Regions from separate parts of the Homo sapiens genome. Here regions 1, 2, 3 and 5 are each linked to region 4. Evidence: fine-mapped expression QTL. A gene starts in region 4. Each other region holds a variant in brackets. All regions are shown on one strand. Distances are between the middles of the regions.

Evidence for each region.
Region 1: its variant is fine-mapped to the expression of NDST1 in whole blood (TOPMed, PIP above 0.99).
Region 2: its variant is fine-mapped to the expression of NDST1 in blood mononuclear cells (TOPMed, PIP above 0.99). The same link has a PIP of 0.9 or more in lung, sigmoid colon and whole blood.
Region 3: its variant is fine-mapped to the expression of NDST1 in whole blood (INTERVAL, PIP 0.98).
Region 5: its variant is fine-mapped to the expression of NDST1 in whole blood (TOPMed, PIP above 0.99).

The regions. Positions count from the first base shown.
Region 1 is chr5:150,455,355-150,460,453 of GRCh38, forward strand. No RefSeq gene overlaps it. Among named protein-coding and RNA genes, the nearest start is that of RPS14, 8.2 kb to the left of the region's middle. RefSeq lists a silencer at 3,548-3,617 and an enhancer at 4,422-4,521. The variant G/A (reference allele first, on the strand shown) is at 1,979.
Region 2 is chr5:150,555,186-150,560,273 of GRCh38, forward strand. NDST1 (N-deacetylase and N-sulfotransferase 1) reads left to right here. Exons shown (of 15, transcript NM_001543.5): 15 at 1-3,026. Among named protein-coding and RNA genes, the nearest start is that of NDST1, 50 kb to the left of the region's middle. RefSeq lists an enhancer at 1,923-2,092. The variant G/A (reference allele first, on the strand shown) is at 2,992.
Region 3 is chr5:150,651,880-150,656,972 of GRCh38, forward strand. It overlaps SYNPO (synaptopodin), which reads left to right. Exons shown (of 3, transcript NM_007286.6): 3 at 4,525-5,093. Among named protein-coding and RNA genes, the nearest start is that of MYOZ3, 6.8 kb to the right of the region's middle. RefSeq lists an enhancer at 1-239 and silencers at 4,503-4,722, 4,863-4,922. The variant C/T (reference allele first, on the strand shown) is at 2,964.
Region 4 is chr5:150,505,236-150,510,334 of GRCh38, forward strand. It overlaps NDST1 (N-deacetylase and N-sulfotransferase 1), which reads left to right and starts at 2,896. Exons shown (of 15, transcript NM_001543.5): 1 at 2,896-2,991. RefSeq lists an enhancer at 4,880-5,099.
Region 5 is chr5:150,475,623-150,480,721 of GRCh38, forward strand. NDST1-AS1 (NDST1 antisense RNA 1) reads right to left here. Exons shown (of 3, transcript NR_105061.1): 3 at 1-137. Among named protein-coding and RNA genes, the nearest start is that of NDST1-AS1, 7.8 kb to the right of the region's middle. RefSeq lists an enhancer at 1,198-1,367 and a cis regulatory region at 1,283. The variant A/G (reference allele first, on the strand shown) is at 1,952.

The DNA.
Region 1 (5,099 bases), 50 kb before region 4:
CAAAAAATACAAAAATTATCTGGGCATGGTAGCGCGCACCCATACTCCCAGCTACTCGGGAGGCTGAGGCATGAGAATCGCTGGAACCCAGGAGGCAGAGATTGAAATCGTACCACTGCACTCCAGCCTGGGTGACAGAGTGAGACTCTGTCTCAAAAAAAAAAAAAAAAAAAAAGAAAAAGAAAAGAAAATGAGAAAATGGATCCAACAGGATTTACTGATAGATTAAACTAGACATGGGGCATGGGAAAAGAGTGTTGTCAAAGATGATTCTAGCATTTATGGCTGGAGGAACCAGAAGGATGGAGTTGCCCTCAGCTGGGGTAGGGAAGGCAGAGGGTGGAGGAGGTTTTTAGGGGAAGATCAGATGCCCACTCGTAGGCCTGAGTTTGAGCTGTTTATTACATACCCGAGTGGAGCTGTCAGAATGACAGCTGAGATAGATGAATCTGGAATTGAGAAGTGGATCAGGGCTGGAGGTGTAAATTTGGGAGTCTCCAGCATACAGATGGTATTTAAAATCACAAGACTGATTTTAATCACGAGTCCCGCCAAGGGGCTGAGTGTAGATAAAGAAGAGGCTAAGGACTGAGCGTTGAGAGCATGGGGATAAGAGAAGGAGAGAGCCAAGAAAATAAGCCATGAACAGAAATGAAAGGAGACCAGGAGAGGGCACATCCAGAAGGCAACTGGAGAAATGCAATCAAGCAGAAGGGAGTGTGCACCTGTGCCATCGCGCTTAGAGGTCAAGGATAACAAGGGCTAAGGATGACCGTTGGATGTAGCAACATGAAATACTGGGGACTTTGACAACAGCAGCTTGATTGGGGGGCTGGGTGGGGGGAGTGCAAAAGTGTGAATGGAGTAAGAGAGGGAGGTCCACACCTCTTGGACAGCTCTTTCCAATATTTATTTATTTATTTATTTATTTATTTATTTATTTTAAGATAGAGTCCCTCTCTGTTACCAGGCTGGAGTGCAGTGGTGTGATCTCAGCTCACTGCAATCTCCACCTCCTGGGTTCAAGTAATTCCCGTGCCTCAGCCTCCTGAGTAGCTGGGATTACAGGCACACGCCACCACACCCAGCTAATTTTTGTATTTTTAGTAGAGAAGGGGTTTCACCATGTTGGCCAGGATGGTCTCAATTTCTTGACCTCATGATCTGCCCACCTTGGCCTCCCAAAGTGCTGGGATTACAGGTGTGAGCCAGCATGCCTGGCCCAATTATTATTATTTTTTTAATTTTTAAAATTTTGTTATTTTTGAGACAGAGTCTCACTCTGTTGCCCAGGCTTGAGTGCAACCTCTGCCTCCCAGGTTCAAGCGATTTTCATGCCTCAGCCTCCGTATAGCTGGGATTAGAGGTTTGCACCACACACCTGGCTAATTTTTGTATTTTTAGTAGAGATGAGGTTTCACCATGTTGGCCAGGCTGGTCTCGAATTCCTGACCTCAAGTGATTCGCCCGCCTCGGCCTCCCAAAGTGCTAGGATTACAGGCATGAGCCACCGTGCCTGGCCCTCATTTTTCTTTAAATACTGAGTCTCCCTAAGTTGCCCAGGTTGGTCTTGACCTCCTGGGCTCAAGTGGTCCTCCCACCTCGGCCTTCCAAAATGCTGGGATTACAGGTGTGAGCCACCATGCCCAGTTCCTTCATAGACAGCTCTTGAGTTTTTCTGCAGAGGTGTGCCAGGGGGCAGATGGAGAATGGGAATGTGAGATCAAGAGGTTCTTTTTTTTCCTTTTTTAAGGTTGCATCAATAACAGATATTTTAACACTGCTGGGAATAGTCTAGAAGTGAAGGAAAAACATGCTGGAGCCCTGACATTGAGCAGGCAATAGGTAAAGGCCTCTGCTGCGCATGTGGAGGCATCGGCTTTAGGCAGGAATGTGGACAGCTCACCTCAGGTGCTAATGAGGAAGGAAGACGGTGGGGGCAAATGTGGCAGCAGGAGCTGGAGAAAGTTCTCATTCC[G/A]GAAGTGGAAAGCAAGCAGCTTCCTCTCAACAACCACAGGAGGTAGAAAATGTTTAATCCCCCCCGTTATAACTGAGGACACAAGGAAAAGGTCAACAGCTCTAAGTGGGGCACCAGGATCTGGGCCCAAGCAGTCTGACTCCAGAGCCCAATTCGTGTAACCTCAGGTACAGGTGTTTTGTAAATATCTGTTGATTGGATGAAGGAAGAGCAAGGAATTAGCCTGCAGCAGCAGAAGCCAAGCCCTTTCCTGGGTCCTCAAGCTCAACCTGGAAGGCCCCGTGCTCCCCATTCTCGGCAGCAGCTCATACTGTCATTTGTCCAGGAGCTCTATCCCCTCCTCCCCTTGAAGGGTAGTTTGCAAATGCAACAGAGGAAGGGTGGGAAGAAGCTGTGGCTCAGAGAGGGTGAGTTTGCTCACCAGGACACACAGCCAGGAATCAGACACCAACTGTGGCCCAGGTGGTCCTGGGACTTGGAGGGAGGACCTTCTCAAAAGTGTTGGCTGCTGTGAAGCTGTCGTGGAGTCATGGGTCTATTGCTGGTCTGAGCCCCAGAACACACATGAGCGCTAGTCTGCGTGTGTAAGTGTGGCACACAAGGGAGAGCGGCGGTGTGTGTGTTGGGGATTAGGCCAGGTGCACACCCTCCAGGGTCCAGGGGAGGAGGGGCTACAAAAGGCCTGGAGATGGCTCCCTCTGTAGCAATGCCCCTCTAGAGACCGGCAGGCTTCGTCCTCCAGGGCTGTAATTCACCTGCTCCCCGTGCTCACAGGACTCACACGCGGTCTGCGAGCAACTGATGGGAGCCCCTGTGTGCCCCAGGACCTGTCATCTCAGCACTCGCCACACAGTGACCGTGTCACGGCCTGCTGCCAAGGGGCTTTGTCTAGCAGGGAATATGGGCAAGAAACAAGGACAAAGTAAGGAACGGGGGATACGGAGGGCTCTGGCTTGCTCAGGGGCCTTGCTGGAGGGCCCAAAATGGGAGTAGGAGACAGCCAGGACAGGAAGAAGAGGGTGGGAGAAAACTCCCAGCTCAGGCCGGGCGCGGTGGCTCACGCCTGTAATCCCAGCACTTTGGGAGGCCAAGGCGGGTGGATCACGAGGTCAGGAGATCGAGACCATCCTGGCTAACATGGTGAAACCCCGTCTCTACTAAAAAAATAAAAAAATTAGCCAGGCGTGGTGGCGGACGCCTGTAGTCCCAGCTACTCAGGAGGCTGAGGCAGGAGAACGGCGTCAACCCGGGAGGCGGAGCTTGCAGTGAGCCGAGATCGTGCCACTGCACTCCAGCCTGGGCGACAGAGCAAGACTCTGTCTCAAAAAAAAAAAAAAAAAAAAAAAAAAGAAAAGAAAAAGAAAACTCCCAGCTCACGAAACAGCACGTGGAAAGGTCTTGAATCAAAGGGGACCTGGGATCATTCAGGGATTCGGGAGAAGTCTCTGTGCTGAGGGGAGGGGGTGGGTGGGAGGTAAGATCAAAGGTTGGGGCCTGGGCCTTGGGGGCGGTGGGTGAGAGGTCTCCCTCGCTCTGACCCAACGGAGGCAGATCCTCGGTTTGATCCTGGGCCCAACTCTGCTCAGTGAGGAATGTCGGGGCGGGGTCCCGGGGTGCGGCCCCACCCACGGTGCGTGGAATACAGGGGCGGGGAACGCCCGCTCTTCCCGAAGTGCCCGCTAGATGGCGCCAGATCTCCGTGCTGCAGGGGAAGGACCCGCCTCGGCGGGGCAGGTACACGTGGAGGGTGGAGGGTGGAGGGTGGAGGGTGGAGGGTGGAGGGTGGAGGGTGGAGGGTGGGCGGAAGGCGCAGGGTGAGGTGTCTAAGCCCAGAAGATGGTTGGGACGTCCTAGGATGTGGTTGTGATGTGACGACGGCCTTGATGTACATTCTCCCTTTGTGTCCCATCACACCCCAGGAGCTCAGATTATTATTCTCATTTTACTCAGCGGGAAGCTTTAAGTAGGATGAGGTCAGGGCTGCGCCCAGGTCACTCAGCTGGTTCAGGGTGGTGAAGTGGACAAAGATGGCACCCGGCCTCTGTGTGCCCTGCCTGCCGCAGGCCAGCTCGCAGAGGGCCTGCGCTCAGTCCATCCAAAGGGAAGGGCAGTGCCAGGGCAGCCCAATGGCTGGCAGTGCCAGGGCATGGATCCCGAGTCGTTTATTCATTCAGCGGGTTTATTGAGCACCTACTGTGTGCCAGGCACTGGTGAGCGATAAAGCAACGGATAACACAGACATGGGTCTCCTTCCCCACGGAAGGGACAACCTAATGGGGAGACAGCCAGGCGTTATACAGATAAGCCTGCCAACAACTTTATTATTAGAGATTGTGGTAAGGGCTATGAAGGAAATACGCACACCTGAGAAGATTCCAAGGTAGGCTCACTCTCGAGGTGGGCAGGGCTCAGGCACAGGGAGGGCTCAGGAGGAGATATGGAAGCTGAGACCTGAAGCGTGCGAGGTGCAGCCATGAGGAGGGCTGGAGGAGCAGCCTTAGGGGCAGAGAGGACAGCAGTGCACAGGCTGCCAAAATTGGGAGGAGCCCGAGGAACTGCAAGGAGGCGGGGCTGGGGCCAGGAGAGAGAAGAGTGTTAGGGCTGTCCCTGAGGGCAGGGGCCAGATCCTCTGGGCCTGCTAGGCCCTGCCTTGTCAAGGAGTGTAGATTTATTATTATCGTTGTTGTTGTTGTTGTTGTTGTTGTTGTTATTATTATTATTATTATTATTATTATTATTATTATTTTGAAACAGTTCTGCTCAGTCGCCCAGGCTGGAGTGCAGTGGCGCGATCTCGGCTCTCTGCAACCTCTGCCTCCCAGGTAGCTGGGATTACAGGCACGTGCCACCACGCCCGGCTAATTTTTGTATTTTTAGTAGAGACAGGGTTTCACCATGTTGGCCAGGCTGGTCTCAAACTCCTGACCTCAAATGATCCACCCGCTCCGGGCTCCCAAACTGTTAGGATTACAGGCGTGAGCCACTGCGCCCGGCCAACTGTAGATTATATTCTGATTGCATGGGAAGGCAGTGAAGAGCTTTAAGCAGGGAGCCACATGTTCTGATTTGTCTTTAGAAGTCCACTCTGGGCCAGGAGTGATGGCTTGCACCTGTAATCCCA
Region 2 (5,088 bases), 50 kb after region 4:
CCAGGTTCCTGTCCCTTCCTCCGTCACAGCATGGTCATTCCAGGATATGGGGACAAACCACTCCTTCCCAGCCAGGGTGCCTTTGAGCCTTCTCATTCCGAGGTCTGCGTTTGCATCCCTGTCGTGTTCTCCCTCGAGGGGTCCTTCCCCAGCCTGTGGGGGCCTGGGTCTGTTCTGAGCTGATTCCCTTTTCTCCAGTTCTCTGCTGGGATGAAGAAAGTTGGACACTCAGTGGGACCAGCTGCAGGTGGTTTCACTGTGTACACAGCAGTGTCCCCATCATGCCTCTCAATGGGGCCTGCAAGCCTGGGAACTTGGGCATCGTTGGGCCAGCAGGATGAGCAGCAAAGGGTCTGAGGACAGGGTGGCATGTCTGCTTGTGTGCTCATGAAGACATGCCCACGCCATGGAGCCAGGGGCTTATAGAGAGGGGCAGTGACTTCCAGAGTCCCATCCGTCAGTGAGGGGACTGGGCTGCGGGATGGGTGAGGATCTTACAGCTCCCAGGTTCGGAAATCTACCCTCTAGGCCTGGAGGCCTCTCTCGCAGAGCATGGAAGGCAGGAGAGGTGGGCTGGCCTAGGGCAGGAGCTCCACTTCTCTCTGCCTCTGGCTATGGGAAGGAGCAGGCGGTTGGAAATCCTGTGACAGCAGAGATCTTCTGGATTTTTGCCTGGACCCTTCTGCAAGCCTGGAGACTGGACCTGCCACATGTTCCAAGTCTGTCTGCCTAGGTCACTGCTGCCACTTCTCCTCCCACTAACAGACCTTTCTTGAAGACCCACTAGGTCCAGACACTGCCGGGACTTGCAGGTATGGGGGGTAGAAGGAGAGGCAGATAAGCTGCCTGGGGGGCTGTTAGCTAATGGGTACAAGGACACCCCCTCCCGAGAAGAGAAGCCACAGATGAGTGGGCCAGCGAGGCCAGTCTTCAATGTCCACTAATTCACTCTAAGCATTTGGCCAAAAAAAGGAGAGAGAAATAACTGAAATTGTTCAGGTGGCTCCATCGTCTATTCTGTGGTCCCCTCCATGAGCCTTTGCCCCAGGGTGGGTGCAGGTGCGAGTGTCACCTGCAGCTGCCTCAGTCATTCAGAGTTCCAGAGCCTTCTGTGGTGGAGCATCCTGCTGCTTGGAGGATGAGTCTGAAGTTTAAAAATGGGCCTTTTCTGAGCCCCCCTGATGAGCAGTCAGTGCTTCTGGGCCCAGCTAAGGAAGCCATCTGTTCCCAGCAGAGGAGAGCTGCTGCGCTGACCTGCAGAGGTTGGTGGTCCCAGCACAGAGCTGTGCCCATGGGCTTGTTAGTGGGAAAAGCAAATACAACAATGTTTTACCAAACATTTAATTATGAATGCCCACTCCCCAGCATCTAGATCTAAAATTATTAACATTTTGCCACATTCTTTTTCTCTCTCTGTGTATGTATATGTTTTCTCTGTCCTAATTTAAAAGTACATTGCAAACATCATGAAACTTGATCCCTGAAAGCTTCAGCCTGCATCTCCTAAGAGTTAGGGCATTGTCCTACACATTGGCCCAGTATCACAGCCAAGACGAGAAGTCATTTCCCAGCGATGTCTGCTATCTAATCTGTATTCAAATCCCCCCAATTGTCTCCCAGGTAACTTATGTGTCTGGTTTTGGAATCAGCATCCAGTCACGGTGCACACATTGCATTTTCTAACTATGTTTTTAAAACCTCTTTGAATGCTGAAAGGTCTTCCCTCAGCTCACTTTGAGTTTTTAAATGACATTGTTTTTGAGGCCCTAGGCCTGCTGTCTTTTTGAAGCCCCACATTCTGAATTTGTCAGATTGTTTGCTCATGGTGTCGCATAACCACTTCTTCTATCCCCTGTACTTTCAAGGATAATTTAGGCTACATGAGATTTTGCCTTTTGTGCTGACTTGACAGCTTCACTTCTGCCTAAGATGCGCCTCCACTGTCACCTGTACCAAGTGCCAAAACAGCAGAGGGGCCAGTTAGAGCAAGAGCTCTGGGGGGGCCGGAAAGTCTCCCTGGAGAAGGCCGTAATATCTGGGCCTTGGAAGGAAGGACACAGGGCTCTGGAAGGAGGAGGCTGCATGCCTGAAGGCTGGGCCTTCGACCCTGGGGATGGGCCACAGGGCACCAAACACATCATATGTCTCTCTCTTTCTATTTTGGGGTCCCAGGGTTTTCATTTCCTGGAGACCCGTGGTCTGTGTGCACTGGAGCAGAGCCAGGCTCTCAGTTGCAGCAGGGAAAAGCCTACATGGGGAACTGCCTCCCGCAAGCTGTGGTGTGAGAAGAGCCCTGGCTGGCAGCAGGAGCTGTGAAGTTTCATCCCAGCCGGGTGCATTTAGTAGCTGCCTGACCATCTTCCTCCCAGGCCCTCAGTTTCTTCATCTGTAGAATGAGCAGATAGGGGCCACAGCAGGGATTTTCACACATCAAAGGAGGCAGCCTCTGCTCTAGTTGATGTGAGGATGAGGGGGCGGCCTAGACCCCCTGCTGCCCAGGCCGTTGAGGCAACACTGGGTTCCTGGCTTGACAGCTGTGGGCTGGCTGCCCTTGCCAGCTCAGACGGCTGGCGAGTTTTCAGCTTCCCTAAGGGACTGGCATAGGGTTTTGTGGGGTCAATGCCAGGAACCTGGGGGAAACTGGATGCGTTTTATCCTAAGAAGTTCATCCCTCCTGCTCTTACTGTTTCCGGCCCTGGAGGAGAATGAGGGAGGAGAGGGTTTTCTATGACTGTGTTAGCTTTTATTATTAGCAAGAGGGCTCCTTTTGTAATTTGTGCATGAAATTCATGTCATTTCCTGGGAGAGGAGAGGGCCGACTGGAGAGGGTGGGGGGCACACTGGGGAAGCAGGCAGAGGTTTCCTTCCCTTGTAGGGGGGTGGGGAGAGTGGGGAGAGGGGGTGCTATCCAGTTCGCCTGATGAGGGCTCTCGAACCAGCCGTTTTGGGTTGTGTTAAAGGTGAGACCTTCCTCCATTAATGTACAATCTC[G/A]AACTAACTGCTAATAAAGTGGGGTTCTGTTTGTACACCTTGGTCCTGTCTGACCTTTTTGCAAGGCCCGCAGGGAAGGGTGGAGTAGGGGTGTTTGCATGCACGGCCAAAGCCCGCTTGTCCCTGCCACCTCAGGCATGCACACGTGCCCACATGTATGCACACACCTATACACATGGTGACTTGGTCAACGCAGATCATTTTCACTGGGTTATAAATGGAAGATTTCCCAGATACAGCAGAGGCCTATCCTAGGGCAGCCACAGGGGGCATCTCAGGTGATAGAAGCCCTCAGACAAGCTGGATTGCTCAGAAGCCCTGGGTGTCGGGCACTGGACCGAGAGGAGACTTGGGGGCTGGAACAATTTCTGCTACTAATGTATATTGTAGCTGGGGGCAAGCCACTTTTACTGTTTTATCCCATTTCCCTCACCTTTTAGACGCATGGAGGGAGTTGGACTCCATGGCCTCACTTGAAGAACTTGCCTAAAACATGCAGATTCCCAGGTCTACTTCCAGAGATTCAGCTCCAGCAGATGTGGGGTGGGGCCCAACATCTTTAAGGAGCCCTCCAGTACACTGAGGAATTTATAAGGAGCCCTCCAGTACACTGAGGCAGCCCAGTGTAACTCTGGCTCAGAGTGGGAAACTCTGACTCAGATCCATGGTTCCTATGGGTTCTAATTAATACGGAGAGCCCCACTGTCCAGGAAAACTTAGGGTAAAACAAATGACTGAAGCCCTCACAGCCTAATTGAGGGCCAGACTCGAGATTTGCCTGGAGAAGGAGAGTTCACAGGTAGGGGCCCAGGCCAGTGTCTGCAATGCAGGTGATCAGACATGCTCCTTCAGAATCCCCTTGGGAAGCTTTAAACAATATACATTCCTGGGCTCCCCCAAAATCTGCTCACTCAGAACCTCTGGGGTGGGACCCAGCACTGTGTACTTTAACAGACTCCTTGGTGTTCAGGGAAGTTTGGGAACACTGAATCAGGCCACCATGTTTGTCAGAGACGGTACCCAGAAATGTGCACAGCTTCTGAGGGACAGAGGAGGGGCATGCTGGGGACACAGCTGGGCAGTCCTGCTTCCCAGGACCCAGTATGTTCAAAGTGAAATACCACAGTGCCACCTCTGATGGCACAAGGGCAGCACCTGCAGAGCCCTCTTTGCAGTTCGTCAGCTGGGAGCTTGGTTTGGGTCAGGTGGCCCTCACCAGCAAGAACACAGCTGGAGGCTGCATGGACAAGAGCAGATCCAGAGGCATGGTGCAGAAAGGTGACTGTGCCAACTGAGGGGTCAGCCTGCAACAGGGATTTTTGAATTTACATACAGCTGAGATTCTGTTTTGAAAGAATCACTTAATTGAAAACCAGGTAAAGGTGGGGGTGCTCTGTGGTTGGAGTGGGAGTGAAGCTCTGGACTCTTCCCAGCTCACCTCCTCCCTGTCTCTCAGGCTATCTTGGAACCCTAAGATTTCTCAAAACACATTGTGAAAACCCAGCCCAGTTGCTTCCAGAGGTCCTAAAAGTCCTGCAGTTCTAATAGGCTGAATGAGTAGCAGCCCATCAGCCCCTCCTCACCCCCCACGGGGATGTCCACCCAGTAAATCTGGTGCCCCAGGAGTGGTTTGGGCTTCTAGAGGTGGGGAGTTACCTTGGAGAAGCCTGGATCATGCGTGTAGGGCAGTGTGTTTCACAATAGGAAAACGCTGGGAACAACCTAGATGTCCATCCACAGGGTCTCAGCTAGGTAACCTCCAGTGTATCCATTCACTGTAATGATGATTCAGTTGAAAGTAATGAGCTCAGTCTCCAAGCCCTGCCAGGGAAATTTCTATGACAGACTTATACAATGTGACCATCATGGAAAGAGAACACTACAGTTTGTATTTTTCCTGGGGTTGTAGATAGACGTCTCATATCAAACTGATACTAGGGGAGGAAAGACTGAGAAGGGGAACTTTCAAAGGAGACTTCAGCCTTGGCTGAAATATATATAAGACAAGGATAATGCATTTGCATATCATTTGTGGAATGAAAAAGTCTTAATGAAAAATAGAAATGGACAAAGCAGAAAGGGGGACTCCAAGCAGCT
Region 3 (5,093 bases), 150 kb after region 4:
GGCTTTGTGGGGGGTGAGAGAATACAGACACAAGTGGCAGGATTCAGATGGAAGCTTCGCAAGGCTGGGGGCCGAGGACCACCCACTTCTCTTTCCCAGCCCTAGTTCTGGGTTCCCCAGTGGGGCAAGGGGTGGTGGAGGCAGTGCCCATGCTGGGCTGAGCCTGCAGTTTTTGTGAGCTCTGGGCTTGTCTCCATGGGAACAGGGGTGCCTTCTTAGTGAGCTCATTTCACACAGATCGAGGGGGTATGCGTGGGGGAGTTGTGAGTGAGCTCAGCTCCTTCAGGCCTGGCCTCTCCCAGAACAGAGTGAAGCCCCTGCCCTGGACCCCTGCTCCCTTCTACCCTTGAGGGCCACCAATGGAAGAGCCCGCCCTTCATTCTGCAGCTCCTGCGGCCAGGCTGAGCTCTGCCCCCAACTTTGTTTTCTCTCATGTTCTCAATACACTCTGCCTCAAATCCGTCTTGCTTCTTTCTTTCTTCCGTGCTGCTAGGGGTCAGGGTTCCCTTCCTCCTGCCTGATTCTAGCCTGGGAAGTGGAGTGGGCCTGCTCAATTACTGTGTGTGAAAGTGTGGCTGTGTCCTGCGTGCTGCCTGCACCTGCCGTGTGTCTGGTTCTGCACTGGTACAGACGTGTGCTGGGTTGGAAATGAGGGCTTCCTCTCTACAGCACTCAGGGAGCCAGAACCCTGTGCAAATCGCAACCTTTTGTTCTTTCCTTCCCTCAGAGTTTGGCCAAAAATACTTTAGAGGATTTTTGGGGAAAATGCACTACCTCTTCTCGTTGAGGTTTGTTTGGGTTCTTTACAAGTGGAATAGAAATTCCTCTAGCCAGCATTCGCTCTCCAGTTCCCTCAGGTCCCCTCCCTGCTCCCCATTATCTAAATTTGGCCATTTCCCACATTTGCCATTGTTTTCACTGTCTGGATCCTAAAAGCATGGAGTTTCTGCCCCTGGTGGGGAGGAAAGAACTGCCATCAAGGGTCAGGAGAGCTGGGTTCTAGCCCCAGGTCTGCATCTGATTCGTGTGTGACCTCAGACAACCTCTTCCAATCTCTGGGCCTCAGTTTCCCCTTCTGTGCAGTGAAAGGATTACAGAAGGAGGTCAGAGACCATTTGGTCTCCGACAGTCCAGGTTTGACTGTGTTCTACTTATGTATTCACCCCACACATGTGCCCTGCTTTGGGTCTGGGGTTGGGTTGAGTGGATGCTACTTTTTGAATTTTCACCCACCGCATTCCCAAGGAGCTCTGGTGTGCACGGTGCATTGAGCTCTCTGTCAGAAAGTGAACAGTTCTGATTTCCTGCAGCCTTTTCGTACTGTGCACACCCCCGACTCAAAAACATACACACAGAGTCAGTGCCCAGGCATGGCTGTTAGGGTGAGGTCAGGCTCTGGCCCATCTCCAGATGATGGGGATCTGCTTACCACTGCCCTCAACATTCAATCCCGTTTGAGCCCTTCTGTTTTGTAGTCTTGGCTGAATTGTTATTTCTTCCACTTGTTGGCCTCAGCATTCCCCTTGTGGCCACCAAAGGCAGAAACAATGCTTTAGAGATTTTTAGGTAGTTATCATAGCTCTCCTGTGCAGCCTACTCTCCTGGCTGAAGACCCCAGGTTCCGCTGCCTTGGGTGGTTATTGACTGGCTTGGGTCATGAACTCTAGGCCCTACCTCCCTGCTCAGGGTGGCACTGTGGTCAGGTGTTGGGTCATGCCAGAGCCCACCCTGATTTGGCATTTGGCCCTAGCCCTCCTCTTCTAGCCCTGGAGCTGGGACCTTCCTCCCAGCTCCTCTCCCTAAACTGTGGGGTCTGCCTTCTGCGGCCAGCCTGACTGGGATGTTCCACTGGCACAGAGAAGCTCCCAGTGTCTCTGGCTCATGTATACACAATTCTGACCCTGGGAAGAAAACAGTGGGATCCCAGGCTGAGCCTTAACTTTCAGCTTGATGACTGGGAGCTTGGATGTCCCTAGGGAGTCTCTAAGGGTCACTCCAGCATTAGTATCCCATGAAAAATGTCCTGCTCAGGCTGTTGTATAACATTCTTCTTTAGGTTAAAGGGCTCCAGTTTGGAGTCTGGGCTCATCTAGCAGCTGCTACATTCTGTTTGGATAAAACATACAATTGGTGTCTATTTCCTTTGGATTGGGAGGAATTAGAAGACTCTCAGTTGGATGAGAGGATGACTGGCTTGGTTATGGCTGATCACTGATTGGATGAAAGAATAAATCTTTGGATGGTTCTAGATTTTGATCGGGTAGGAAGCATGGAATGGACTGGCTAGCTCTGAACTCTGGTGGATGACTGCTAGTGAATTTGGATTGGATTAAATGGCAAGGTGGACTGGTTATTGCTGGAATCTGATTGGGTGAACAGTTGGAAAGTTCAGGAGATACATGTTAGGCAGGGATTCCCAAGCCCTCCACTTTCAAACCAGTTCAAACCGCTTAAACATGTAGCCTTTGAGCAGCACACACACACACACACACACACACACACACTTCCTGGTGGGGCAGAACACACTAGATTGTTATTTACACCTCTGAGCTTCATTTTCATCATTTGTAAAATGGGTGTGGTAATGCTAATTACCTCACTAGTCTGTTGTGAAAACCTAATGAGATAAAGGATGAGAATGAAGTTTGTAGACTGAAAGTCCTTAAGTACATAGGAAACAGGTATGGCTCTGCATCGCTGACCAGTGCTTCATAGCCTCCAAGCTGTTCACCATCTTGGCCTCTCCAAAACCACACTCCCCTCCCCATTGCTGTGAAAAAGCTCAGTGAGGGGCGTGTGCTGCCTAGGGAGGAATGGCCCGACTTCCTTTTGTATCTCCATCTGTCAGGGGCATCTTCCTCCCTGTTCAGGCATCCAAGGAAAGATGATGAGGTGACCATGGCAACATGGCAAATGGTTTGGGGCTGAGAGGGTCTTTCCCTAAGTCCAACTTTAATAATAGT[C/T]GGCCAGGCGCGGTGGCTCACGCCTGTAATCCCAGCACTTTGGGAGGCTGAGGCGGGCGGATCACCTGAGGTCAGGAGTTCGAGACCAGCCTGACCAACATGGAGAAACCCCGTCTCTACTAAAAATACAAAATTAGCCAGGTGTAGTGGCAGGCACCTGTAATCCCAGCTACTCGGGAGGCTGAGGCAGGAGAATCACTTGAACCCAGGAGGCAGAAGTTGCGGTGAGCTGAGATTGTGCCATTGCACTCCAGCCTGAGCAACAAGAGCGAAACTCCATCTTAAAAAATAATAATGGTCAATATTTTTACATTTTAATTTTGATAATAGATAATACATTCATATGGTTCAGAAATCTAAACTTATATAAAAAGTAATATATTAAAAAGCCTTATTCCCATCTCCCTGCCCCAGCCTACTCTCTTGGCTGAAGAGCCAGGTTCCCCTGCCTCAATAGTTGCTGACTGGCTTGGGTCATGAGCTCTAGGCCCCACCTCCCTGCTCAGGGTGACACTGTGGTCAGATGAGAGGACACACAGAGCCCACCCTGACTTGGCATTTGGCCCTGAGACACTAGTCTCAGCCTCTATCTAGTTCTTCCCATGTGGCCCTGGGCCCGGGACCTCCCTCCCAGCTCCTCTCCCTAAGTCATGGGGAAACCGAAGCCTCCCTCAGCTAGCCTGACTGAAAGCTTCCCGGGATGTGCCACAGACAGAGCAGCTCCCAGTGCCTCAGACTGTGTGCCCTGTTCCTGTTCTCACCCCATTTCCTAACAGGTGACCATTTTGGTTAGTTTCATGTATATCCTTCTAGTATTTTTTTTAAATTGAGACAGAGTCTCGCTGTGTTGCCCAGGCTGGAGTGCGGTGGCACGATGTCGGCTCACTGCAACCTCCGCCTCTGAGGTTCAAGCGATCCTCCTGCCTCAGCCCCCGCAGTAGCTGGGACTACAGGCACGCGCCACCGTGCCACTAATTTTTGTATTTTTAGTAGAGACAGGGTTTCTGCATGTTGGCCAGGCTGGTCTCGAACTCCTGACCTCAGGTGATCCACCCGCCTCGGCCTCCCAAAGTGCTGGGACTACAGGCGCGGGCCACCGCGCCAAGCCCTTCTGGTATTTCTTTATGGTAATCAACATCTATTGAGCACTTTCTTCCAAGGAATGTGCCGATATATGTAATGTTCTTTTCCATCAGTTATCTCATTTAACCCTCACAACAACCCTATAAGGTTAAGTACTGTTATCACACCCCATTTTACAGAAGCAGAAACTGAAGCCCAGAGGGGTGAAGTAACTTGCCCAAGCTCAGTTAGTAAGTTAAGGCGGCTCTCTCCAAAGCGAGTCTTCTTAACACGGAGGCAGACACAAGACAGCGGGGACTCTTCAGGCGTTCCGGGCTGAGAGTTTGGGCGCCTGCGTTTTATTGCAGGCACTACCTGACTTGGATCGGTGGCTTCCCTTCTCGGTGTAATGGACAAATCGGACTCCGTCCCTTCCTAAAGCCCGGTGTGGAAGACCTCAGCACTAATGCCTGCCCCACCCTCTCTGCTCTCTCCCCAGGACCGCCGGGAGAGCCTGCCCACCTCCCCACCCTGGACGCCGGGCGCGTCCCGGCCCCCCAGCAGCCTAGACGGCTGGGTGAGCCCGGGCCCGTGGGAGCCAGGTCGCGGGAGCAGCATGAGCAGCCCCCCGCCGCTGCCGCCGCCACCGCCCATGTCTCCCTCGTGGAGCGAGCGCTCGGTGTCCCCGCTGCGACCTGAGACCGAGGCGCGGCCCCCCAGCCGCCAGCTGCAGGCGCTTCTGGCGCGAAACATCATCAATGCGGCCCGGCGCAAGAGCGCCTCCCCGCGGTCGGCGGGCGCCGAGAACCCGCGGCCCTTCTCCCCGCCGAGGGCGCCACCGCCCCCGCCCCCGCCCCCGCCCCCGCCCCCGCGCATGCGCTCGCCACAGCCCGCCCGCCCCGGCTCGGCTGCTGTGCCGGGGGCAGCCTTCGCGCCCATCCCGCGGAGCCCGTTGCCCGCCGGTCCTTCGTCCTGCACCAGTCCCCGGAGCCCGCTGCCCGCGCCTCCCAGGCCCTTCCTCTACCGCCGCTCGCCCACGGACTCCGACGTGTCCCTCGACTCCGAGGA
Region 4 (5,099 bases):
TCCCCATCCCTGCCTACCTGCTCCCGGCTGTCCACCAGCCTGCCTTCACATTAGCCCCGGCATTATATGCTAGAAAATGTGGGAGGTGCAAAGAGCTGATGGCATTTCCCCAGCCCTGGTGGGTTTTCTGTTATCTGTGGCTGATGCCATGGAATGTGGGGATTAAGAACCAGACAGATGCTGGTTCGAATCTCAGCTAAGCACTTCCCAACAGGGACCTTAAGCAAGTTGCTTAATCTCTGTGGACCTCAGGCTCCATATTTGTAAAATGAGGCCATGATCAAGTAGAGGCCAAGCATTTAACAAAGAGCCCAGAACATAATGGCATCAGGTGGTTGTATAATGTGTATTCTGCCTGGAACGTGGTCACTGACAACGTGGTGACTGACAGGTTATCGATGGCAGGAAGCTGGGGCCACTGTGCCCATTTCGGGGATTTGCTGCAGAGGTCGGTTATGCTCCCTACAGAATAACCCAGCTTAGATTTAGGAGGGTCTATGGAATCATATGGCATGATTCAATTTTTTAAATTAACTCGTTTTTTAAAATTTTATTTTTTTTAGAGATGGGGTCTTGCTGTATCTCCCAGGCTGCAGTGCCATAGTGCAGTTGTAGCTCACTGCGGCCTTGAATGCCCGGGCTTCCAGCAATCCTCCTACCTCAGCCTCCTGAATAGCTGGGACTACAGGCTCGTGTCACCATGCCTGGCTTCATGATTCTGTTTTATGTGACCAAACTGAGGCCGAGAAAGGAGTGGTACTTGCCTGAGGTCACAGGCAGGTTGTGTAAGAAGGCCGGGCCTAGGATGAGGCAAGTGAGGCATCTAAGTGCAGCGTCTCAGGAGGTGCCCGCTGTGTGCTTGCACATTGTGGAGAATAAGAACCTTTGTTTTTGAGAGAGGGTCTAGCTGTGTCGCACAGGTTGGAGTGCAGTGGTGCAATCTGGGCTTACTGTAGCCTCAACCTCCTGGGCTCAGGTGATCCTCGCACCTCAGCCCTCCCATATAACTGACTATAGGCACACGCCACTACGCTGTCTAATTTTTGTAATTTTTTTTTGTAGAGAAGGGGTTTTGCCATGTTGCCCAGGCTGGTGTTGAACTCCTGGTCTCAAACTCCTGGGTCAACCTGCCTTGAGCTCCCAAAGTGTTGGGATGACAGGCGTGAGCCACTGCACCTGGCAGTGAGCACCTTCTAAAAGGCTCCTCGCGGGCCTCACCTGAGCCTAGTCCTGGGTGAGTTCCTGATCTAGGACTGGAACCCTGGTCTCCTGGCCCCATGAACTGTTCTGGACCCCTGCGAGGTACTTTTTAGAGTCTCGCTGAGGCCTCCTATTCCTCTTTAAAAGGAGCCTCTGTGAAGTAGGTCACCCAGTGCTTTTTGCTCCACGTTTCTGTTCTCTAGCTGTTGTCTGTGTCCTAGAGAAAGCCGGGCCCACTTGCCCCCACCTCTCCCCACCTTCTGCCCCCTCCCCCTGCCAGCTGCGCCTCCATGTAAGTACTTTGAGTCCCTTAACACCCCAAGGCGTGTTGGTGGCCAGCTTTTGTCGTGATGACAAGCCCCAGCAAGTCTACAGGGACTGGCTGCTTTCATGTGGGCCCTCGGTGAAGCCTCCTTGGTCTCAGCAGGCCCTGTGTTGTACCCACCAGGCCTCTAGGAGATTAGGGGGCTTCTGTGGCTCCAGATGGCTCAAAGCTTTTCCCTTCCTCTGTGTTATCCCTAGCCCACCTGGCTTCCGTCCTCACTGGCCACGGGGCTTGGGGGATTTTCAGTCTCTCCAAGGCTCTGGCATCTTCCAGAGTGGGCTAGTCTTGGAGTGTCCATCTGAGCCATTCTTTCTGTCACCACTGCTGGGCCTGCCTGCTGGGCCTTAGGTGACTTCTTGAGAGGTGGCCAAAGCTGCTAATCCCTGGAAGGGGCTCCTAGGATTTCCCTGTGGCTGGCAGGACCCTTGGCCACCCACGTGGTGTGACATGAGGAGCCTGGAAAGCCAGCCCAACCTCCATCCTTAAGCCCCACGTATAAACATACCTTTTTTTTTTTTTTAACTGCAGCTCTCAGAGCCTGCAGTTCTACTGTTGTCAGGTTGCCTTGTGCTCTCCTTGGCATCCTCTAAGAAGGCAAATACCTTTTCAGCTGGGTGCTTTTAAGCATTTGCTGTCAAGAAGCAAGCCCTGGCCAGCCTGGCCCTTTTCCAGTGTTCTGTGTGACCGTGGCCAAGTTGCTTCTCTTCTCTGGGTCTCGTCTTTGTAAGACCCTTTTCAGCTCTAGCACTTTGAGGCTCCAGCATGGATTCTTACACCCTCCACACCTTTGCCGGTCACCTTTCTTCCTTCTCTGCAGGGTGGGGCACAGGGAAGGGCCTGGCAGCTGAGCTGGGTGGGGCCAGGGGCCAAAAGCCAGCATCATAGACACTTTTCCCTCCAGCTGGGCATACCAGTCCTTCCTCTTCTTCTCAGGACAGGTGGGGAAACTGAGGTCTGGAGGGGGAAGGGCCAGGGCTGGAACCAGGACCCAGTTATCCTTATTGCCAGTGAGTGCTCCTCCTGCTGTTGGCTGCTACCTCTCTTGAGAGGGTCAGAAGACCCACTAGCATGAGGGTCAGGGACATGCTTTTTCCTTTCCCGTGGAAGGCTCCTCCAGGCAGGGCTTGGGTGAGGCAGGCGAGGTGCCAGTGGTTCCCTGGGCACGGGGCAGAATCGGAGGAGGACATCCTCTTTCTGAGGTTAAGGAGGTAGGGGCTGGAGGCCTTGACAAGGGAGGTGGCATGAAGGGGCGTGGAGGTTTCTAGGAACGTGGTTGGTGGCGCAGGGTGCTCTAGGGCCACCTCCCTCCCTTGCTTCTGCCTTCCCTTTCTCCTGGGGAGGGGACTGGGCCAACAGTAATGCCATTTTTCCTGGCCCTGGGATTAGGTGCAGCCGTGTTAAGGAGAGGACATTCGAGAGGGCGTGGCGAAGTGAAGAGGAACCTCACGCCACTGCCTGGAGCTCCGGTGGGTCTGGGTCTGGTCATTGTCTCGCTGGCTCCTGTCCACTCTGACCACTGTCCCTGGCCCCCTGCCCTGTCCAGTCCTTCCAGGTCCATCTGAGTGTGTGTGTGTGTGTGTGTGTGTGTGTGTCCCCAGGAGGGATCTGGGGGTACAGGCTGGCACTTGAGCCTGGCACTGGGTCCTGCCTTCATTCCAGATCAGAAGCAGCTCCCGGAACTGCCCCAGGGAGAGGTCTAGGCTGACCTGGCAGATTCCTGATGGAGGAGAAGGAGGAGGAGGCTGAGGGATGGGAAGGAAGGGCTCAGTTTCTCCTGTGGCTTCTCCAGACAGCTAGGCATGTCCACAAATCCACCTGAAGCCAGCAGGTCCAAGAGTTTAAAGATTTATTTCAGGGCCACGGGGGAAGCTGAAATGGTGAGATCCCAGGGCTCTCAGATGTTGTGTTTGTGGCTTTGGTCCTGTCTAGACTGTGAGAGCCATGGCTTGTCAAAGCCAGAGGGGCCCCTAGAGAATTTCCATGTTCTTAACTTGGCTTTTGATGGGGGCCAGTCACAACCACTCTGAATTTGTGTGTCTGGGGAGAGAATCTGCTAATAGCCATCATTAGATTCTCAAAGGGTTCTATAACCCCCAGAAGGTCACAGACTTCTCCTCTAGTCCATACCCCTCACTGCAGTTGCAGAAACTGAGGCTCAGAGAAGGGAAGGGACTTGCCCAGAGACTCACAGGCGGCAATGGAGGCTGTGGCACCCCCTGCCTCTGTCTTCCTGCCAGCATTCTGCCTGACCTTACAAGCTGGGGAAGCTTGGCTCATTCAGGGGACAATGACCTCTCATCCCCTGATGAGAGGAAGGGGATGACTGGGAGGGAAGGACTGGGAGGCTGTTGTGGTTTCCAGGCCCGCATGGATTTTGGCTTCTGCATCCTTGAGATGGAGGCCCCTGAGTCTGCCTGTGCCTTGGAATCTCTCAGGGTGTATCTGAGGCCTGGAGTCGGGCATGCGGGAGGGTGGGGGCTAGTGGTGACCCACATTTCCCAGCTCCTCTGCAGGGGAGGCAGATAGGGGAGAAGCTCAGGGTGTGATAAAATTGTTTTTACTTCACTGGGCATAAATGACAAATAAATGAAGTGAGGGTTGGGAAGTGCTTGGTAGAGCGCCTGGCACATGCCAGGCCGTGAGGCGAGGTGCTCACCATTGTCCTTTGCGGTGCCCTGCTAGCTGAGATCTCCTGCTTCTGACCCTCGCTCCTGCCTCTTCCTTAGCATGAGGCCTCTGCCTGGGGCAGGAGGTGGCCCCCCTTTCTTTATTTTTTTTGAGATGGAGTTTCGCTCAGGCTAGAGTGCAATGGCGCCATCTCGGCTCACTGTAATCTCCGCCTCCCAGGTTCAAGCGATTCTCCTGCCTCAGCCTCTGGAGTTGCTGGGATTACAGGCATGTGCCACACACCTGGCTAATTTTGTATTGTTAGTAGAGATGGGGTTTCACCGTGTTAGCCAGGATGGTCTCGATCTCAGGACCTTGTGATCTACCCGCCTCAGCCTCCCAAAGTGCTGGGATTACAGGCAGGGGCCACTGCCCCGAGCCGCCATCCCCCTTTCTTATATTGGGGTGTCTGATGGGGGCGTGAGGACCCTCTGGCTGAAGTCCTGCCTTGCTGGGTTCCATGGTGCACCTCTCTGCAGTGCAGGCTTTCCCAGGAGGCTGAAGCTCAGCTAGAGAAGCTGGGTCAGCAGCCCTGGGCCTGGTCACCTCCAGGAAGCCTCTCTCCTGGGCTGCAGACCTGGCTTGGGAGTGGTGTGGAAAGTAGGACTGCAGAAGGGTAACGAACAGGGGCTGTGGGGTGGGCTGGGAGGGGCATCCTAGCTCCACCTCTGCCCAGCTGTGTGACTTCGAGCGGTTGCTTACCCTCTCTGAGCCTCCATTTCCTTGTCTGTAAAGTGCTCATAGCAGTGACACCTCTTTCAGGGTGTTAGGATTGAGCGTGATGGAGCAGGTAAGGCTCCTGGCACAGCCCCACATGTTCGCAGGAGCTTAACGTTGGCCGCCAGTAAGGGAGGTTATGATATGTGTTGGGATATGCTGCTTTGTTCCTTTTGAGTGTCTGTGATCT
Region 5 (5,099 bases), 30 kb before region 4:
GGTCCAGGGACTGAAGATCCCACAGCTTGGCTCTTTTGCAAGGTGAGGGGATCTCCTGCAGGTTGGGCAAAGCTTCATTTTCTCTTCTGTACAATGCGGGTGAAAAAAATCTCCGCTGTGTCTACCTCTCAGGGCTGCTGTGGGGCACCAAGGAATTGGTGTACAGAATGAGAAAGTTCATTTGTTCTTTCTTTCTTTCTGTTTTTTTTTTTTTGGCGGGGGGGCGGTGGGGGGACGGAGTCTCGCTCTGTTGCCCAGGCTGGAGTGCAGTGACGTGATCTCAGCTCACTGCAAGCTCTGCCTCCTGGGCTCACGCCATTCTCCTGTCTCAGCCTCCCCAGCAGCTGGGACTACAGGCACCCGCCACCACGCCCAGCTAATTTTTTGTATTTTTAGTAGAGACAGGGTTTCATGAGGTTAGCCAGGATGGTCTCCTTCCCTCCCTCCCTCCCTCCCTCCCTCCCTTCCTTCCTTCCTTCCTCCTTCCTTCCTTCCTCTCTCTCTCTTTCTTTCTTTCTTTTTTTTTTTTTTTTGAGATGGGGTCTCACTCTGTCGCCCAGGCTGGAGTGCAGTGGCGCAATCTTGGCTCACTGCAACCTCCGCCTTCCGGGTTCAAGCAATTCTCCTGCCTCAGCCTCCCAAGTAGCTGGGACTACAGGCGCATGCCACCATGCCCAGTTAATTTTTGTATTTTTAGTAGAGACGGGGTTTCCCCATATTGGTCAGGCTGATCTTGAACTCCTGACCTCATGATCCACCTGCCTCGGCCTCCCAAAGTGCTGGGATTACAGGCGTGAGCCACCTTGCCTGGCTTCTTCCTGGTTTTTAGAAAGTACTTTCTGGCCAGGTGCTGTGGCTCACGCCTGTAATCCCAGCACTTTGGGAGGTCAAGGGTGGCAGATCACCTGAGGTCAGGAGTTTGAGACCAGCCTGGCCAACATGGTGAAACCCCCATCTCTACCAAACAAACAACAAAAAACAAACAAACAAACAAAATTAGTTGGGCGTGGTGGTGGGTGCCTATAATCCCAGCTACTCAGGAGGCTGAGGCAGGATAATTGCTTGAACCTGGGAGACAGAGGTTGCAGTGAGCTGAGATCGCGCCACTACACTCCAGCCTGGGCAACACGAGCGAAACTCCGTCACAAAAAACAAAACAAAACAAAACCAAAACCAGGAGGAAAGTACTACATGTGAAATGGATTGTGCTAGCAGCACACAGGAGTGAGGGATGAAGGTCTGGGAAGGCACAACATGCATCTTTAGGCTCTGCCTGAAACAGGAAACCTGGACCCCAAGACAGGACTTCTTTGGGAACCCACTGGAAGTGCTCTTCAAACAGCAGTGGCACTGATGAAAGTGGTGTGTAGAAGGAAAGGGCACGAGGGAATCCCGTGGAAGTGAGGGAAGGAGGCACAGAGCCCAGGTGGTCTTGGTGAATTTGGGGGCTTATGGCCCCTAGGTACTGGGAGGTAGTGTGAGTGGTGACAATAATTGCATCTTTTAGTTGGATGGACCCGGATTCCAAACGTCTTCTGCCACCCCTGTCTGTGTGACCTGGGGGAAGTTGCTGTACCTCTCTGGGCTGCTGAAGTAACAGATACAAGAAAGCAGGTGGCATGCATCAGAGTCAGTAATTAATTGCTGTGAATTACCCACATCCCCTATATCAGTCTTCGGTTTCTACATTTTATATCCATTGTATGGCTGAAGCAGGGATAGCCTTCCCATTTTACAGATTTTCTCTGCTGTTTGTTTAACAGATATCAAGGTCTGCCAGGAGGAAAACAGTCCTAGCACTTGAAAAGTTCAGTGTGTGTGTGTGTGTGTGTGTGTGTGTGTGTGTGTGTGTGTGTTGGGGGAGGGAGGGCGCAGTGGGGGGCGGAGGGAAAGAGAGAGGAAACTGTTACAGCATGTGGTCAATGCTGTAATTATGGTGACCATGTTCTCC[A/G]AACCACAAATCAGGTCACGTGGTCTGACAGAGGCTATTTTCTGCCTCCACTGAAGTCCAAACATGAAATCACATGTAGTTACACATTCATTGAATCACCTTTTCTTTTTTTTAAAGAAGCAAATGACATGAAATTTGGATTGTCCTTGACAAATCCTGCTATATTCCCAGAAAATCACTAGAGCTGTGACTGGGGCCCATACAGACCTCTAGCAGGAGCAAGAAGGTTTCCTGGACCAAGCGCTACTTAAGTGGGACCTTGAAGGCTAAATAGGTTTCCAGGCAGAGAAAAAGGTGGTGGCCTGGATGCCCTTGGGACAGGACTTACTCTTCCTGCTCTAAAGACAGCACTGGCCGGGTGTGGTGGCTCACGCCTATAATCTCAGCACTTTGGGAGGCCAAGGTGGGAGGATCACTTGAGCTGGGGAGCTCAAGACCAGCCTGGGCAACATAGGGAGACCCTGTATCTACAATTTTTTTTTTTTTTTTTGAGACAGAGTTTCGCTCTTGTTGCCCAGGCTGGAGTGCAGTGGCGTGAATTCAGCTCACTGCAACCTCCGCCTCCCAGGTTCAAGCGATTCTCCTGCGTCAGCCTCCCAAGTAGCTGGGATTACAGGCACCCGCCACCATGCCCGGCTAATTTTTTTTTTTGTATTTTTAATAGAGATGGGGTTTCACCATGTTGGCCAGGCTGGTCTCGAACTCCTGACCTCGTGATTCACCCGCCTCGGCCTCCCAAAGAGCTGGGATTACAGGCGTGAGCCACCGCGCCTGGACTTTTTTTTTTTTTTTTGAAACGGATGGAGTCTTGCTCTGTCACCCAGGCTGGAGTGCAGTGGCGCAATCTCGGCTCACCGCAACCTCTGCCTCCCAGGTTCAAGCGATTCTCTTGCCTCAGCCTCCCGAGTAGCTGGGATTACATACGTGCGTCACCATGCCTGGCTAATTTTTGTATTTTTAGTAGAGACCAGGTTTCACCATGTTGGCCAGGCTGGTCTTGAACTCCTGACCTCAGGTGATCCGCCCGCCTTGGCCTCCCAAAGTTCTGGGATTATAGGCATTAGACACTGCACCCGGCAATTCTTTTTTTTTTAAGAGACAAGGTCTCACCCTGTTACCCAGGCTAGAGTGCAGTGATGTCATCATGGCTCACTGCAGCCTCGATCTTCCAGGCTCAAGTGATCCTCCTACCTCAGCCTCTCAAGTACCTGGGACCACAGGCGCACAACACTATGCCTAGAGTATGTATGTATGTAGAGACGGGATCTCCCTATGTTACCCAGGCTGGTCTTGAACTCCTGGGCTCAAGTGATCCTCCTGCCTCAGCTCAGCCACTGTGCCCAGCCTCTGCAAAATTTTTCTTTTTAAATTAGGTGGCACGTGCCTGTAATTCCAGCTACTCAGGTGGCTGATGTGGGAGGATTGCTTGAGCCTGGGAGGTCCAGGCTGCAGTGGGCCATGATCACACCACTGCACTCCAACCTTGGCCACAGAACAAGACCCTGTTAAAAAAAGAAAGAAAGGAAGAAGGGAGGGAGGGAGGGAGAGAGACAGAAAAGTAGCTTGCTGGGAACTGGTGGTGCTGGCTGAAGTAGGCAACAGTGTTTGTTTTCAGTTACTTTTCACTTTCATTGTTCCAAAGACCAGCCCCAGCCTCCTAGGAAACAAAATTGTTACAGACTAAAACAACGTGGTTACACTGCGTTGTATCTTCCTATGCATTACGGCACTTTCTCACAGTGGACCGTATAGTCTTTGAGGACAGGAACCACATCTATCTTATTCATCTCTGTGTCTCCCTATTTCCCTTCTGCCACCAGGATGGTGTGAGGAAGACTATAGAAGAGGCACTAATAATTGTTGAATGAAGAGTGAAGTACCATTGATGGGCATTTTGTTAGGTAGACAGTGTCCTCTGTTTCATAATGAACCTGTGAACTTTCATTTCATCTGTTTATTCAGCAAGTATGTGCTGGTTGCCTACAATGTGCCTGGTGCTGTTTGGGGCACTGGGGCTCAGGGCGTCTGAGACACACACAGTCCTGCCCACATGGAGCTCACAATCTAGAGGGAGAGAGTGGCAGCTGACAGGTAACTACGAGGGTGATAAAGAGGGAGATGTGAAGTGTATACAGGAAGCCTGGTTTGGATTAGGGTCTGAGGAAAAGCCCAGGAGGAAATTAAGTTTAATTGGAGACTTATAGCTGGGGATGGTGGCATGTACCTGTGGTCCCAGATACTAGAGATGCTGAGATGGGAGGATTGCTTGAGTGCAAGAGTTTGAGGCTGCAGCAAGCTGTGATCTTGCTCACCGTACTTCAGCCCAGATGACACAGCGAGAGCCTGACACATTTAAAAAAAAAAAAAAAAAAAAAAAAGGCTGGTAATCCCAGCACTTTAGGAGGCCGAGGCAGGCAGAGACAGGCAGATTGCTTGAGCTCAGGAGTTCAAGACCAGCCTGGGCAACATGGTGAAACTCTGTCTCTATAAAAAATTAAAAATTAGCTGGGCTTGGTGGCATATGCCTGAAGTCCGAGCTACTTGGGAGGCTGAGGTGGGAGGATTGCTTGAGCCTGGAAGGTCAAGGCTGCAGGGAGCCGTGATCACACCACTGCACTCCAGCCTGCAGGAAAAAAAGAAAAAAGAAAAAAAGAAAAAAAAAAATCTCAGACCTAAAGGATCACAATGAATCATTCATCTAACATTTAAACAGTCAACCCTCTATACCCACAGATTCTGAATCTGTGGATTCGACCGACCATGGATCGAAAACATATTTTAAAAAATTGTCTGTATTGAACATGTGCAGACTTTTTTTGGGTCATTATTCTCTAAAAAATATAGCAATTCTTTGCATACAATTTACATTGTATTAGGTATTACAAGTAATCTAGAGATGATTTAAAGTATATGGGAGGATGTACATAGGTTATATGCAAATATTAAGCCATTTTATATCAGGGATATCCACACATTTTGATATCCATGAAATGTCCTGGAATCATTCCCCCATGGATACTGAGGGACAACTGTAACTGTACAGTGCTTGTCCTATAACAGATAACACACTAAGGGCTTTACATATTTAACTTATGTAATTCTCACAACAGCCCTGGGAGGTATGTTGTACTATTATTATCTACACTTT